Homo sapiens: one gene and its partner. The protein of the gene in region 1 purifies or fractionates together with the protein of each later gene. This does not show direct contact. Each region holds a gene or a part of one and is shown in the gene's direction. Other genes may lie near its edges. The genes, in order: POLM and ACAD8.

Region 1 (7,482 bases):
GGGGAGGCCTTGGGGCCTGGTGAGACAGCAGAGGGTGCTGTGGGGGTGGGTGAGGACAGACAGTCGTGGGTGCTGACACTGCTCCAAGGCCTCAACAAGCCACCCTCTGCGCTCAGATTCCTCCTGTGCACACTAGCCATTTACTCCTGGGTGGCCTAGAGGACCCAGTGAATGGCGCTGTGAGGGGCCTGGCAGGGCTAGGGGTGACACTGTTGTCATTGTCATTAGTCCCAAACTGCCCTCCACAGTGGAATGAAAGAGAGCACCCTGAGTGTGAGCATCTCTTTTCAGTGCCCCAGTGTGTTTAGTTGTCCTTTAGTGCACTTTCATTGCAAGAATACACAGTGACAGAAGATGCTTTTAAATGAAGTAGTATTGAGTTCACATGTTCTGAAAAGCAATTGTTTATGTATCTTGGGACTTATTTGACTGAGAGATGATCCACGTTACCTGGCATCTCAGCTGCTGTAACTCCAGGCCCGAAGGAGCTTTGAGGCTGGAGCCCTGACCTCCCAGCTGTGTGGCAGCAACTTTGGTCACCTCCCTGGGCACAGTCTCCATTTCCAGGTCCTACTGGACCCTGACCTCACAAAGTTGTCTCTGCCGGGTGTTGGAGGGGACTGCCTCAGTCCTTGGGCCCCCAGCCCTGACCCTAACTCCCCGCCCTTCTCTTTCTTCCCACGCCCTCAGGCTTAGAGTTCTGCTTTGTTCCCTCCCCCAGGAGCTGCTGGAGCATGGAGTGTGTGAGGAGGTGGAGAGAGTTCGGCGCTCAGAGAGGTACCAGACCATGAAGGTGCGCAGGGCAGGGCTCGGACCTACCCCAGGAATGTCCTGCCCTGGGAATGACAACACAGTCCACACCATGCACGGGGAGGCAAACAGGGGCAGCTGACCCAGCCCAGGGGTCAGAGAAGGTCTTGCCGAGGAAGTGGCAGCTAAGCTGATACCTGATATGCACAAGGCAGCCAAGTGGAGACAGGCAAGGAAGAAGCTTGTTTTGAGGACAGAATTTTCTAGATCACTCAGCACCATCTGGCTTTTGGGGCTTTTTGTTTTATTTTGTTTTTGAGACAGGGTCTCGCTCTGTCGCCCAGGCTGGAGTACAGTGGTGCGATCACAGCTCACGGCAGCCTTGACTTCCTGGGCTCAAACCATCCTCCCACCTCAGTCTCTGGAGTAGCTGGGACTACAGGCATGTGCCACCACACCAGGTTAATTTTTAAATCTTTCTCGTAAAGATGGGGTCTTGGTAATGTTGCCTAAGCTGGTCTCAAACCCCTATGCTCAAATGATTCTCCTGCCTTGGTCCCCAAAATGCTGGGATTATAGGCATGAGCCACTTCGCTCTGCCTTGACTGTTTTTGATGGAATATTCTCAAGTAGATTACATGCTGTGGCATCTTAAACAGAGCACTGTGAACCAAATGTACCCTTGGGTGCTGCCACTGAGCATGCTGGGCTTGCCCTTGCCCGCCTTCTGCAGGACCTTATGTGTTATTTTCTCAGTGTTGTCAGCCTGCCTGTTTCCATGGCCACCTTCCCTCTGTTTCTGCTCACTCCTGGTCTGATAGGGAAATGCCGTCTGAGTTCTTTTGGATGCCTCGGGTGTGCCTGCTTTGACACCCTTCTGCCAACTGGCTTTGTGGCTGGAGGTGTCACAGCGGTGGCCACATGGATAACTGTCAGTGAAGTGTGGCTTCCTGGGTGGATGGGGCCTTGGGAGGTCACACAGAATGTTGTCAGGATTGACAGGGAGGGCTTCGAAGAGGAGAGACTTGAGCAGTGTGTGCAGGGCAAATGGGCTCAAATATGCAGGGAAGGGGGCAAGGGGCACTGGCAGGGACAGGGGACCAGATGAGTGGGGCCACCGTGGTGAGTGTGGGAGTGAGGGGCCTGAAGATGATGAAATCCCCTTGAAGTGGTGTGAGGTTAGTGAGTACTTTCACTGTCAGCCTCAGCCCCAGCCCTGAAGGCATCTAGGCTGGCAGAAAATTACATTAGTAATGAGAAGTTTATTAACAATATAATTGGGTTAATCTCATCATTTTTAGTCAGGATTCTTTGGGTTGCAAGTGACAGTGACCCACCCCACACCGTTGGTTCACAAAATAAAGGAAAGGAGGGCCAGCAGAGCCCAGGATGGGGAGGGCTGTGGCCGGTCTGCAGGACAACTGGGCTCAGCGACCTGGGTATCACCAGGCCACTCCTCCTCCCCTCTGCCCCTCTGCACGGTGGCTTCGCCCTCTCTTGCGACGCACCAGCTTCTTCCATCGGTTGGAAATGTGGCCACAAAAGGTGCTCGGCTGCCACAGGCTACAGCTTCTGCCACTGTGTGGGCCTGCCCTCAGTCTCAGATCCAGAATTCCTAGGGAGGGACTCTAGTGGCTGACCTGAAGCAGGTGACTTGCTTGGGCTGGGGCCCACCCTCTGTGGGAAGATATGTGAGCACCCCAGCCAGCCCTGCCAACTCTGCTCCTAAATCCACCCTTTTGATTGTTAACTCCTCATTGTTTTTTGCTGTTGGCTAAGGAGGAGAACCACAGAAATTTGTTCCACCTTCTGTTAGGTGGGAGAGGCATGGTTTTTCCAGTGACTTAGGAGCCCCTCGTGCTGATGTGTTAGGGTGACTGTTTTGATTATGTTGGAATCACAGGCTAGAGCTGTGTAAGTCCCTTTCATAGAGGAGAGGAGAGGGGTGTGCGTGGGTTTGTTCCCAGAGACGGCAGGCTGGGTAGTCAGGCTCCAGGTTTGAATCCTTGCCCTGTGGTCTACGGCAGGTTGCGAGTGGGGACGGCGCCTGCCTGGTGCATGGTGCTCCATGGGCCACACCGTCCCGGAGCGGGTGATCATCCGAGTCTAGCCATGAGAGCTCTGCCCAACCGGGCTACGCTCCTTCCCCACAGCTCTTCACCCAGATCTTCGGGGTCGGTGTGAAGACTGCTGACCGGTGGTACCGGGAAGGACTGCGAACCTTAGATGACCTCCGAGAGCAGCCCCAGAAACTAACCCAACAGCAGAAAGCGGGTGAGCCCTCCAGAGAGGCTGGGCCCTGGGCTTCCCTAAACTGCACCCTGGATCCCTCAGCATCAACTCCCTAGAGGGAAGGGAGCAGTCTGGTGCAGAGGGTTTGGTGGCAGCTTTGTGTGGTGGGCTTCCTGGGGTCTCCACCCAGTGCAGTCAGGATCTATCAAAGCCTTTTCTCAGTGGACGATGCTGACCACAGCAACTTCCATGATATGCCAGGGGCTTGTGTCTGCCTACTGGTTAGACTTTGACCAGTGACCAGGGACAGCCTGGGCCTTGGGCACACTGCCCAGTGTGGTGCTTGGTACATGGAGGCCTGCAGAGGTGGCACTGAGCAGCAGAAAGAACATCAGCTTTCAAGTTTGTTAGGCCTGGGTTTGAGTCTTATCTACCATTTGCCAGGTAGGTGACCATTGCCCAAGAAATAACCTCTCTGAGTCTGTTACATTTTCTGTAAAATGGAGAAGGAAGGCTGGGCATGGTGACTCACACCTGTAATCCCAGCACTTTGGGAGGTCAAGGTGGGTAGATCGCTTGAGCTCAGCAGTTCAAGACCAGTCTGGGCAACAGGGTGAAACCCTGTCTCTACGAGAAATACAAGAGTTAGCCAGGCGTGATGGTGGATGCCCGTAGTACCAGCTACTCATGAGGCCGAGGTACAAGGATCGCTCGAGCCCGGGAGGTCAAGCCTTGAGGCCAAGGTGGAAGTTGCAATGAGCTGAGATTGAGCCACTGCACTCCAGCCTGAGTGACAGAGCAAGACCCTATCTCAAAAAAAAAAAAAAAAAAAGGTGGGAAGGAATGAATTCGTAGGCTCCCCTGTGAGAGCCGGCAAGTGGCAGGTGTTGAGCAGATACTCTGTTCTCTCTGCATGGCCTGCCTGGCTACTCTGGCCACACCATCTGGGACCTCCCTTGGGTTGAGGGCTCTGCTGAAGCAATCCCCACAGCCCAGCAGGCACTGCCAGCTCCACTGCCTCTTCGCACATCTTCCCCCGGGCCACTGCCCAGTTCAGCTGACAGGAGGTGAGACCCGCAGAGCTGGTTCCTCTTGATCGCCTCTCCCCATGGCAAGAGTAGTCAGGAATGGTTAGCAGCGTTTACTGAGAGCTCACTGTGCCAGGTGCTGCTGTTCCTCACATTTAAACCTCTCCTTAGCTGGGTGCCATGACTCACATCTTTATGTAGTCCCAGCACTTTGAGAGGCCGAGGCGGGTGGATCACCTGAGGTTAGGAGTTCAAGACCAGCCTGGCCAACGTGGCGAAACCCTGTCTCTACTAAAAATAAAAAATTAGCTGGGTGTGGTGGCAGACACCCGTAATCTCAGCTACTCGGGAGGCTGAGGCAGGAGAATCACTTGAACCTGGGAGGTGGAGGTTGCAGTAAGCTCAGATTGCGCCACTGCCCTCCAACCTGGGCAACAAGAGCGAGACTCCATCTCAAATAAATAAATAAACCTCTCCTTAACTGCGTGTGGGAGGCTGATAGGTGAGGAAACAGAAGTAGGCCAGAGTGAGGTGTTCGTCATGGCAAAGCCATCTTCCATCCTTTTACCACCTCTTGGTCCCACTTTATGCATAAGGAAAAACAGCCATCAAAAGAGATAGCCTGTGGCATGACTGTATCAACATCAGTATCCTTATATTTGGTTGCAAAATTATAGTTTTGTAAGGGGTTAACCTTTTGGGGGAGCTGGGTAAAAGGCACATGGGATCTCCCTCTGTGCTATTTCTTTTAACTGCGAGTGAATCTACAACTGTCTCAAAATAAAAGTTTAAAATTTAAAGGGGGAGAGAAGATAGTGTCAGGCTTAGATTGGGATCTCACTCTGCTCCCTGCCCTAGCCTCACCTTCCTCGGAGGCCTCTCCTGGTCCTGCAATGACGGGGCCCCAGGTTGATCACCTCATGCTGGTGAGGGATGGGGGCTCGGTGTGGTGGGCAGGCTGGGTGAGTCAGGAGGGCCGGTGTTGCCCCCAGGGCTCCAGCACCACCAGGACCTGAGCACCCCAGTCCTGCGGTCCGATGTAGATGCCCTGCAGCAGGTGGTGGAGGAAGCTGTGGGGCAGGCCCTGCCTGGGGCCACCGTCACGCTGACCGGCGGCTTCCGCAGGTAAGAAGGCCCGACGTGCCCCTCTGGCTTGGCTTCAGACCCCTCCCCAGTGAAGGGACCTGAGTCGGGGACCCTGAAGCGGGCCCACTCGTTGGAAGGGATGTGGCCTGGGGCTGGAGTGAGCAGGCCGTGTCCCTGAGTCAGAGTCAGACTGACGCCCTCAGGGGGAAGTTGCAGGGCCATGACGTGGACTTCCTCATCACCCACCCCAAGGAGGGTCAGGAGGCGGGGCTGCTGCCTAGAGTGATGTGCCGCCTGCAGGACCAGGTGAGGGCCTCCCTGCTCCCCAAGAGCCACCGCTGGCCAATGCCACTGCCTCCTGCTCTCTCCACACCACCGGATGGTCTCAGCCACGCCCGCCTCTCCCCACAGGGCCTCATCCTGTACCACCAGCACCAGCACAGCTGCTGTGAGTCCCCTACCCGCCTGGCCCAACAGAGCCACATGGACGCTTTTGAGAGAAGTTTCTGCATTTTCCGCCTACCACAACCTCCAGGGGCTGCTGTGGGGGGATCCACGAGGCCCTGCCCATCCTGGAAGGCCGTGAGAGTGGACTTGGTAGTTGCACCCGTCAGCCAGTTCCCTTTCGCCCTGCTCGGTTGGACTGGCTCCAAGGTAGGCAGTGTGCCGCTGGGCCGCCTGGGGGTGGGGCTGGGCCAGCCCTGCTGAGGACAATCCCTTCCCTACAGCTTTTCCAGCGGGAGCTGCGCCGCTTCAGCCGGAAGGAGAAGGGCCTGTGGCTGAACAGCCATGGGCTGTTTGACCCGGAGCAGGTACATTGTTGGGGACTGGGGACAGCAAACAGCACCCATAGTCCGCTCCCTGACCCACAATCTGAAATGGCCCCAGACCCCTCCAGCCTGAAACCCATAGGACCCGAATCTGGGTCTCCACACACAGTTCCTGGCCCTCAAGAGCACACCCCACCTCGGCGCTGGGCTCTTCCCCACCCTCAGTCTTCCTGCAGGGAAGCAGCAGTGGCAAGACTCCTAGGTCACGGAAGTCCTGCTTCTGTTGCAGAAGACATTTTTCCAAGCGGCTTCAGAGGAAGACATCTTCAGACACCTGGGCCTTGAGTACCTTCCTCCAGAGCAGAGAAACGCCTGAGCCTGCCTGTGTCCCCCACTTCCACTCAGGAAATTGGGCTGCCCCCAACCTGGCCACTGAATGTCTCCAGGCAGATATGCTGCCCCCTGACCCCCACCTTCACCCCTCCCCGCCAAGGCCTGGCTCTTCCGGAGGTCAATTGTGCCTGCAGGATCAGTTGAGCCCCTGCTGGTGTGCTGCAGGGTGTGATGAGGTGGGAGCCCTCAGTGCCAGCCTCATCACTGTGTGACCCTGGGTCTGCTCTTAGCCTCCCCATGGCTCACGTTCCTGCCCTGGATGGGATGTGAGTGGGGCCCACATCGTGGAGCTGTGGTGGGGCCTGCAGTCATGAATGGCAAGTGGTCCCTGATGTGCAGTGTCTCATTAGTTGCACTGCAGTTAACTGTGGCTCCTGCAGGGCACCCTGCCCAGAATGCCCAGAAGAGAACCATGCATACCTGCACTGCATTTGAGAGCCATGAGCTGGAGGCTGTGGTTCGTGCCAGCAAGGAGCCTACTGTCTGGTGTGCTGTAGGCATCTGGAGAGGGAGAGGGCCTGGGTAGGAGCTGGGAGGAAGATAATTTTCAACTATGGGGCTTCAGTACTGCAGCGCCCCGAGCCAGGCTCTGTGCTTCTGCCTTTAAGGCCTGTTCTCAGCACAATGTCTCAAAAATAGGTCATATCCTGCCACTCCCGTCGCAGAGCCCTTTAATGGTTCCAAACCCTAAGTCCACACATAGCCCCTGGCTCTGGCATCTCTCCAGCCCCACTGGCCCCGAGCTGCTTGACTCACCGGCTTCCTATTTGATGCACCCAGGCCCCCTTGTGGCCAACTCCCTCCCCTTCTCACTGAGGCAGAAGCACTGAGGTGGGCTGGACATGGGTGCCCTCCACGTCCCTCATATCCCCAGGCACACTCTGGCCTCAGGTTTTGCCCTGGCCATGTCATCTACCTGGAGTGGGCCCTCCCCTTCTTCAGGCCTTGAATCAAAAGCCACTTTGTTAGGCGAGGATTTCCCAGACCACTCATCACATTAAAAAATATTTTGAAAACATGCAGTAAAGTTGACTCTTGGGGTGCAGTTTTTGCACACGTAGGGCACACCAGGTCCATCCCCAGAACACTTCCCATGCTGTCCTATTGTGGTCATGTGCTTCTCCACCCCCACCCACTTAGCGGTGCTACATCCCTATAGTTTTGCTTTCTCTAGAATGTCATGTAAATAGAACCAAACTATATTTAACCTTTGGACTGGCCTC
Region 2 (8,406 bases), on another chromosome or scaffold:
ACTTGGTTCCTTTTCCTCCAGGCTCAAAACAAAATCAAACTCTTCTACAAAAAAAAAAGGGAAAAAGGAAGGATTAGTTTTTAATGTCCCCTCTTGAACAGGAAAGTTGTGCCAGGCACAGGTACATCTTACATGGTACTAAGGCGAGCAGTCATTCGTTCAAAACTATTTACCAGGTGCCAAGCACTATAGAGTACTGGGTAATAGTAACAGGTAACTCTGGCCACATTCCCTCCCTCATGGGTGTTACAGGTGAGGATGCTGACTGAGAAAGGTGAAGTACCATGCCCAAGTTTAATCAGCTAGTAAGTGGGAATTCATGAGGTCATTCTGGTATATGGACAATAAAGGAGAGGGCCCACTCTTACCCTGGGTCAGGGGCTGGATTGATAATCTCTGGCGAGTGAAGAGAACCATATTTTTTAAGGGGCCACCAGTAGCTTTGTGAGCTTGATGATAGGATTTGAGCTCAGCCAGGGGAATGAAACGTTTCATCATCCGAACAAACTGTACATCCACCTATGTGACAACAGTGTACATGACAGAAAGACGTGTCTAGGCTGACTGTGCCCACTGTATTTTTAACCGCCCACAGGAAGCTCCTATCTCAGTATCACCTCATCTGAGTAAGTGCTGGGCCGTGTACCTTGACCTACAGTCACCCCAACCGTCTTCTTCCCCTGGTTCATCCTTCCCCTGTCATGAAATAGAAAGCATAGTCTTTACCATGGACCACTTAGGGTTGTCCTCTTTGCTAGATGGGTCATAATGGGGATTGTTTTTCTCAAACTGTGTGTGGTCTGGGTAAGCCTCTTTCACGATCTGAAACCAAAACAAAAGCTTTGAATCATCTGCCTGCAGTCAGCTCCACAGCCAATCTTTTAATCCATATCCAACTTTCATTTCTTCCCTGCACATTCTTAACCCATCTGCCTTGCTGTACAGCCAATGGGGGCTCAGATATTTGGAAACAATATATAGTCTAATATATAGACTAGGAAATCAACTCTGTTTTTACAAAAGTCTTAAAAACATGCTCTAAAAACAAATGGCAAAGGTTATTACTGGTACCACTGTTTTTTTCCCCTCTGCACAGTTAATAATTTTATCCTGATAAGCTTGGAGGAGCTATCATCAGGCCTGTTTTCGAGTGAGATCAAGACTTAGAGGTGGAGTGAAGTCTGTGCTAGTCGGACCTGAATGAAGGCCTGCTTTGAGTTATCAGATAGGAAGGGGCCAGGGCAGTTTTTCCCTATTCCTGTAAAAGGGGGATGGGGTGGGGGGGAGTGTACTTTTTTGTTGCCTAATTAAGGTATATCCCTTTATATCTACTTAAGTTAGTCTCCCTGGAGGAAAAGGGATTCACACCAAAACCTGCCCAACTAACCTTCATGAGTCCTGCGATGCCTGGCTCTTTGCAGTTGCTATGGTAGAAGAAGGCTTCTTCTCCCAGCTTCATGGCTCTAAGGAAGTTCCGAGCCTGTCCCGGGAGAAGAAAGAGTAACTATCCTCCCACCAGCTGGAAAGTACTAGCTTTTAGCAGAAATCAAGTCTGCTTTTAATAGATGGGTGATTCTTGTCTGCAACTCCTCAATTCATTAGAAAGTCCTTCCCCTTTGCCAGGACACCCAGACTTTTACCAGGACATTGGCCAGAACACAGGCCAATTGAAAATTTCATGCAGAGTACTTAAGGCATTTTTTAATACATTATCAGGTTTGCTTCTGAGAAAAAGCAACCTTGGCCAAGAGGTTCTGCTACTGAGTACGTCATGAGGAGGAGGCAGGCATTCATCCCACCTGGGTCTCAGGCGACCTCCTCCTTACCCTCTTACCTGGTAGTTACGAACACCATCCCAGCATGTTGTCTGTTTGGGCTGTGCTTTGAGATCCTCAATGCTGAACTAGGCAAGAGGAAATAAATTCAATCATTAAACAATCCTTGGCCAGTTAGTAAGCACATATGGAAGCAGACAGTTCCTTCCCCTAAAATGAGAGGGGCCACTGGCTATAGAGGAAGTATGTAGTTCACCGGGAAGTGGCTCCACAGAGACACTTTTGCTGGGTGAATGTAAGTAAGCCTTGTGTTACCTTGTTATCCTTGCTAATTATGAGGATTAGCTGAATGAATAATCTAGGTGATAAAGTAATCTGCTAGTTACTTGCATTTTACTTTATATTTATAATAGTTCTGCTTATATTTTTCCCAGGCTATATTAAATTCCCTGAAATATACATCAACTGTTGGCAGGGAGACACCTAGGAGCATGGCAGGTGTTCAGAGAAAGGTAACCTAAGATTGAGGTTGGCAGACTATAGCCTTCAGGACAAATCTAACCCCATGCTGGATTTTGTGAATAAAGTTGAACTTGAACACAGCCACAGCTGTTTACTTATTATCTGTGGCCACTCTCTTGCTACAAGGGCAGGGTTGCAACAGAGACTGTAACACGCACAAGCCTACAAAATTTACTATCTGGCCCTTTGTGGCAAAGGTTAGCCAACCCCTGCCCTAGATACACAGGTTCACAAACCAGCTGATGATAATAAACCCTGCCGATTTTATTCATTTTTACCTTTTTCCTTCCCTTCAAAGATAAGAAGCTGGGGATGGAACCCTATGGTGTCCCATATTCACTTCTCATTTAAAAAACACCATGAAGGGACTGGAGACAGGTCAAGGGTCTCACCTTCACATCTACACCTTTCTCTAGGCGGCTCTCTGGCTCTGACTTCATCAGCCAGTGGCTGCTTAGATTCTTCAAACAGTTTTTAGTGGCTGAAGTCTTCTGAGGGTTGGAGTCCTCCACTTTAGCTAATGCCTCACCTGAGTTCTCAGTTTTGGTGCGTTTTCCTGATAGTCCCTTGTCTGCAATAGGAGAAGCAAAAAGAAAAGATCATGCTTGTTAAAGGCAATGTTTCATAATGGAAAAAGCTTAGCTTTGGAGTCAGACCTGGATTCAAATCATGGATCCATTACCAGCTGTAGGAACTTAATCTTACTGTTAAGAAGCTTTCCTTATCTATAAAAATTAGACAAGAATACCTACCTTACAGGGTATCTTCTGGATTATCTATTCAATAGGGTAAGAACACCTTACAGGGTTGTTCAGGATTAAAGGTCCGGACAGTAGTCAATACATGTTTTCCTTTCCTCACTCTCTCTTCTATGCCTTTGCATAGGAAAGAGGAAACTGAGCACCTACTTGCAACTATTTTGAAGCTTAAATGAGGTAATACAAAGGGCCTAGACAATGCCTGGCATTACAATAAGTGCATAATAAAAGCATTATTATTCTCATCTCATACGTCTTTCCTTCTTGCTCACTGTGGCTCCTGGCCCATCTCCTTTCTGCTCCTTGAAGGTGCCAATAAAAGTTGAAAGAAACAGTTCATTCAGGACATTGTAGAAAAATGGTGATGATTCGATTTCATCCCAAGACAATCAGAATGTGCCTGGAACACAGTAGGCATTCAGTAGCTAAGTTGTTAAATTACTATATGACAGGGCCCAAGGTCTATGTGTTACCCTAACCCTAACTCGGTTAATCTACATAACCTGTGAGATGTTCTACTCTTCATCTGGGAAGCATGCTCCAGATCACACATCCAGTAATGGTGGAATCAAGATATGAGGTCAGCACCTGTCACTGAGGTCTATCTGAAGCTACTTAATGACTATACTGCCTCTGAATTTAGTCAAAGTCCCTACATCAATTGTCATTAAATACCATTTATGGCTGTCTAATGCTCTGAACCCAGCATACCTTCCTAACCTAGTTTCCTAATGGCCCCTTAGGAGTTAACAGGCCCACTGCAAACACCACATATTGATAAATAACTGCAATGTGCTGTAGTATATCTGGAACCCCTGTCATTCCCAAAAGAGGTACTTTCTGTACCTTCCAATGTTCCTCCTCCTCCATCCACTTAGAATGCCATCCATCTTTGTGATTATAAAAACGACATCACGTTTTCTTAGTACTAAACTTTGCCCGTGGAAAGTCTCCCATTCTTCAAGGCTGGGCTCAAATTCCACATCCTTCTCGAGGCCTTCCCCGTGATTCCTCCCTCCATAAACTTAACAATCCATTTTCCTGAACCCCATCACATCTGTTTGCAGTTCACCCGCAAGCAGGCGCTTTATATTCTTTAGCACGCCACCTGGTATCTCAAAGAGTCTTTGTGCACAACAACCATTGCCTGAATAAACAAGAAAAAGGAACTGTAGGTAGGAGCTTGGTGAGACAAGTAAAGAAGATGGAGAGTGATTAAGGATAATGGAGTAAAAATATCACAAAGGGTTCTCAAAAAGCAGGGAGTGAAAAATGAGTACTAAACAGGCTCTTCGAGAAAAGTTTTTTCTTGGGCTGCCTTTGTGCAGCCTAGGGGCAGCTCACCTGAACCAGAAGTCCCAGCCAGCCTCTTCCGGGGTCTCGACATGGTCACGCTGCAGGGGACTTTAGTGCGGACGATTCTGGAATCAACGGAGATACAAGAAAGAATGCTAATGTCCTCCAAAACCCGCGCAGAGCGAGATGGAGGCAACGAGAGGCAGCCTAGAACGTCTCCAACTTTTGCGAAACACAGACGCCTACGTTTGAGCCCTCAAATCCTTCCCTCCGTTATCTGCGCCATTTCCATCTCGCATAACCTGCCCCTAAACTCTTCTCGGTTCTGTCCTTGGTCCTTCTCATCCAGGAACCCCTATCTCAGTATGTAGTTCACTGGGAAGTGGCTCCACAGAGACACTTTTGTTGGGTGAATATAAGTAAGCCTTGTGTTACCTTGTTATCCTTGCTAATTAGGATCAACTGAATGGATAATCTAGATGATGAAGTAATTTGCTGGCTACAGACCCAACACTCTGCAGACTCGACTGCGGTCCGCCTCCGCTGCGCCGCAGGCTGTGCAGCGCGACCCCCGCGGCGCTTGGTGGGCGGTGCATCTCTGCGGCGCCGAGGCCCCGAGGACTTCTGGGAATTGTAGTCCTGTCCCCTTGGGAGCCCGCCTGGCACCTGGGTTGTTAGGGCTCGTGGGAGGACTACAACCCCCAGGGTGCAGTGGGACAGGCGTTGCCGGGTCGCAGGTCCCGCCAGTGCGAGCGCAACGGAGGTCGAAGGCGTTCAGACTCTTAGCTGAACGCGGAGCTGCGGCGGCTATGCTGTGGAGCGGCTGCCGGCGTTTCGGGGCGCGCCTCGGCTGCCTGCCCGGCGGTCTCCGGGTCCTCGTCCAGACCGGCCACCGGAGCTTGACCTCCTGCATCGACCGTAAGGATCTCCTGGCGGGCAGTAGGACAGGTGTCCAGAACCCCGGCGGACATATGTCCGCGAGGGGCTGCAGTCTCCCCGTTCCATCCAGTCACCCCGGCGTCAGCTCCCCTTCCGGCCAGTCACCCCCCCGGCCTGGCTCCCTACTCCGGCCGGTCACCCCCGGCCTGGCTGCCCCCTCCGGTCGGTCACCACCATCCGGGTCCCCATCTGGCCCGTCACCCCTGCCCGGGTCCTCCTCCGGCCGGTCACCCCCGCCCCGGTCCTCCTCCGGCCGGTCACCCCCGCCCCGGTCCTCCTCCGGCCGGTCACCCCCCGCAGGTTCCCCTCCGGCCGGTCATCCCCCCGCAGGTTCCCCTCCGGCCCGGGTCCTCCTGCGGCCGGTCACCCTCGGATGCTTAGAGAAGTGAAGAAACTTGGGGCTTGGTTGTTGTTGGGTTGGTTGGTTTTTAATCATAACAGTAGGTCATAAAAGCAGTGAGAATATAAGAAGCTGGCTGGGTGCTGATGGTGACAACTGCACAAGAACTCCAGGTCATACAAGATTTGCTCACACACAAAGATTTGGTATCTTAACACCTCTGGCTATAAGACACTTTTAGTGTTGAAACTCATGCAGGAAAAATAATTATTATTGCCAGTGGGAAACTCTACCAGAGCTGACAAACTTGAGTGTCTTTAGGCTCTGAACAGTAATTTGAATGTAGCGAGGAGTGGTGGAGACCCGGCCAGTTTGTGACTTCTCTGCCAAGAATGTTTATAAACACTTTTTTCTTCTGAAATATTTTTAAATTTATTTTAAATAAATGGCAGTTTTCTTTACAACAGAATAAGTCCCTTAGATATCAGATCTATAAAGTACAGTAAGGCATAGAATACTGTTTTCTTCTGAATGTCCTAAAACTCATTCAAGAGGTGCTGCCCTGGCCTAGCGCTTAGAATTTGATAACCCAGATTACCCTGGTTGATACCGAAGCAGATAAGGAATTATTTAGAGGTGGGTTTTGTTATTGTTTGCATCTTGCTTACACTTGAGTGGCTCTGCAGTCAAAGGCTTTTCCCATTTCATTTGGAGTGTTTTTCTATTTAGCTTTACCTTTTTAGTGTATATGTATTGGCATCTTGAGCTCTGCTAGTAACTATGTATTGGCATCTTGAACTCTGCTAGTAACTGGCAAAGTTCATGAGTGGTGGTATTTGTTTTGTTTTTATACTGTATTTCCTTCTGGGAACTTGTGTTTACTTATGCATATGATTTGCATAAAACTATTTCCTTCCATTAGAATGCAACTCAGATTTATTTCTTAAGCCTGTGGTTCCTTGAACTATTTGTTTTAGGAAGTAGCCATTTACAGAAGAAGAAGATTTGTTAACATTTAATGAGCTCTTGCTAGGATTGAAATAGTCATCCTTTGTGTGAATGGATCTTATTTATTTATTTTTTTGAGATGGAGTCTCTTTCTGTTGCCCAGGCTGGAGTACAGTGGTGCGATCTCAACTCACCGCAACCTCTGCCCCACGGGTTCAAGCAATTCTTGTGCCTCAGCCTCCCAAGTAGCTGGGATTACAGCACATGCCACCATGCCCAGCTAATTTTTATATTTTTAGTAGAGACGGGGTTTCACCATGTTGGACAAGCTGGACTTGAACTCCTGACCTCAAGTGATCCACCTGCCTTGGCCTCCCCAAAGTCTGGGATTACAGGCATGAGCCACTGCGCCTGGCTGGATCATATTTATTTTTGTAACCCCAGCACTGCTACCTAGTAAACACCCAATAAACATTCTTTTGGAAATGATCTTTGAGCCATGGTCTACAGTAACAGCAACCCTTGTACAAAATTGTGTGAATAAATGGCCTGACCCCAGTCAGAGAACCATGAATTGTTTATCCCTAACTCTGTTCCTGAGGGTAATACCCAACATAGGTTTCTGCTCTGAGTTTCTCAAGGCAGCCTAATCGTTAATCCTCAGAACTCTTCATTTCTGACTTTCCCATTTTAATGAGAGTACTGATCACAGAAAGCAGTGCCCTCTCCAGGCTCGCATAGCCAGCCATTACTGATGCCCAGATTTGCCCCAAGGAACAGACTCTGGCACCTGCCCTTGTGTTCTTCTGTGAGGACTGCATCGCTTGTAGGCACTGAAGTAAATTATTGCCAAGTGTGGCGCCATAGTCTTCCCATAGTGCTCTTTTTTCTTTTTTTCTTCTTTTGAAACAGAGTCTTGCTCTGTCACCCAGGCTAGAGTGCAATGGCACAATCTCAGCTCACTGCAACCTCTGCCTCCTGGGTTCAAGCGATTCTCCTGTCTCACCCTCCCAAAGTAGCTGGGATTACAGGCATGCGCCACCACACCCAGCTAATTTTTGTATTTTTAGTAGAGGCGGGGTTTTTCCATGTTGGTCAGGCTGGTCTTGAGCTCCTGACCTCAGGTGATCTGCCCGCCTCGGCCTCCTGAAGTGCTGGGATTATAGGCGTGAACCATCACGCCCAGCCCATAGTGCTCTTCAGTGTCAGTTATAATGACCAAAGTTCTAGCACTGTGGCCTCAACCTCTAGGTCTACAACTGCATTTTACTAAGTGCTAGGATAAGAGATGTCTGGAAGTCCCCTATCCTGTTCTAGGTTGATCTGGATGTGTGCTAGAACTGTCCTTTCTCCATATGACAAGTGGAATAACGACAGAAGCTGCCATTCTCTAGCTGTTAAAGGCTATACCGTGTATGGGAAATACTACAGTAGATCCACTTTCACAACTTCGTGGTGCTTCTTGTTGGCAACACCTTGTTGGCAACACTGACCCTGTCCTAGAACAGTATATGCAATCCTGCCCACAGCTTCCATGGGACTTAATGAAGAGCAGAAAGAATTTCAAAAAGTGGCCTTTGACTTTGCTGCCCGAGAGATGGCTCCAAATATGGCAGAGTGGGACCAGAAGGTAGGCGTTTTTCTTGTGCTTAGACGTTCTAACAACAGATGTCTCAGGCAGACCTTTATCTTTGTCTCCTGATAATGTAATTGTTAAATGTCTCCTCCACTTACCAACTCTTACTGCAAGTGAGAATACCGGTAGTGGATGATTTTTCCTAGAAGGCATCCTGATCATCTTGTACATAACTTTTTTTTTGTTAGTTGA

Evidence for each region.
Region 2: the proteins of POLM (region 1) and ACAD8 purify together in Homo sapiens (affinity purification with mass spectrometry; 2 studies listed by BioGRID and IntAct, with this or other methods). This does not show direct contact.

Annotation. Positions count from the first base shown.
Region 1 is NC_000007.14:44,072,051-44,079,532, reverse strand, and holds the end of POLM (DNA-directed DNA/RNA polymerase mu), read left to right. Parts: intron 1-721; coding exon 722-793; intron 794-2,903; coding exon 2,904-3,024; intron 3,025-5,002; coding exon 5,003-5,135; intron 5,136-5,299; coding exon 5,300-5,402; intron 5,403-5,507; coding exon 5,508-5,750; intron 5,751-5,824; coding exon 5,825-5,908; intron 5,909-6,099; exon of another isoform or gene 6,100-6,102; coding exon of another isoform or gene 6,103-6,155; coding exon 6,156-6,242; coding exon of another isoform or gene 6,243-6,471; 3' UTR 6,472-7,471; downstream 7,472-7,482. UniProt on the Homo sapiens protein: Gap-filling polymerase involved in repair of DNA double-strand breaks by non-homologous end joining (NHEJ). Participates in immunoglobulin (Ig) light chain gene rearrangement in V(D)J recombination.
Region 2 is NC_000011.10:134,248,441-134,256,846, forward strand, and holds the start of ACAD8 (isobutyryl-CoA dehydrogenase, mitochondrial), read left to right. Parts: upstream 1-5,127; 5' UTR 5,128-5,160; coding exon 5,161-5,269; intron 5,270-8,107; coding exon 8,108-8,208; intron 8,209-8,406. Other genes in the region: THYN1 (thymocyte nuclear protein 1), read right to left, coding at 1-44, 369-519, 727-822, 1,388-1,480, 1,835-1,903, 2,690-2,868, 4,400-4,442.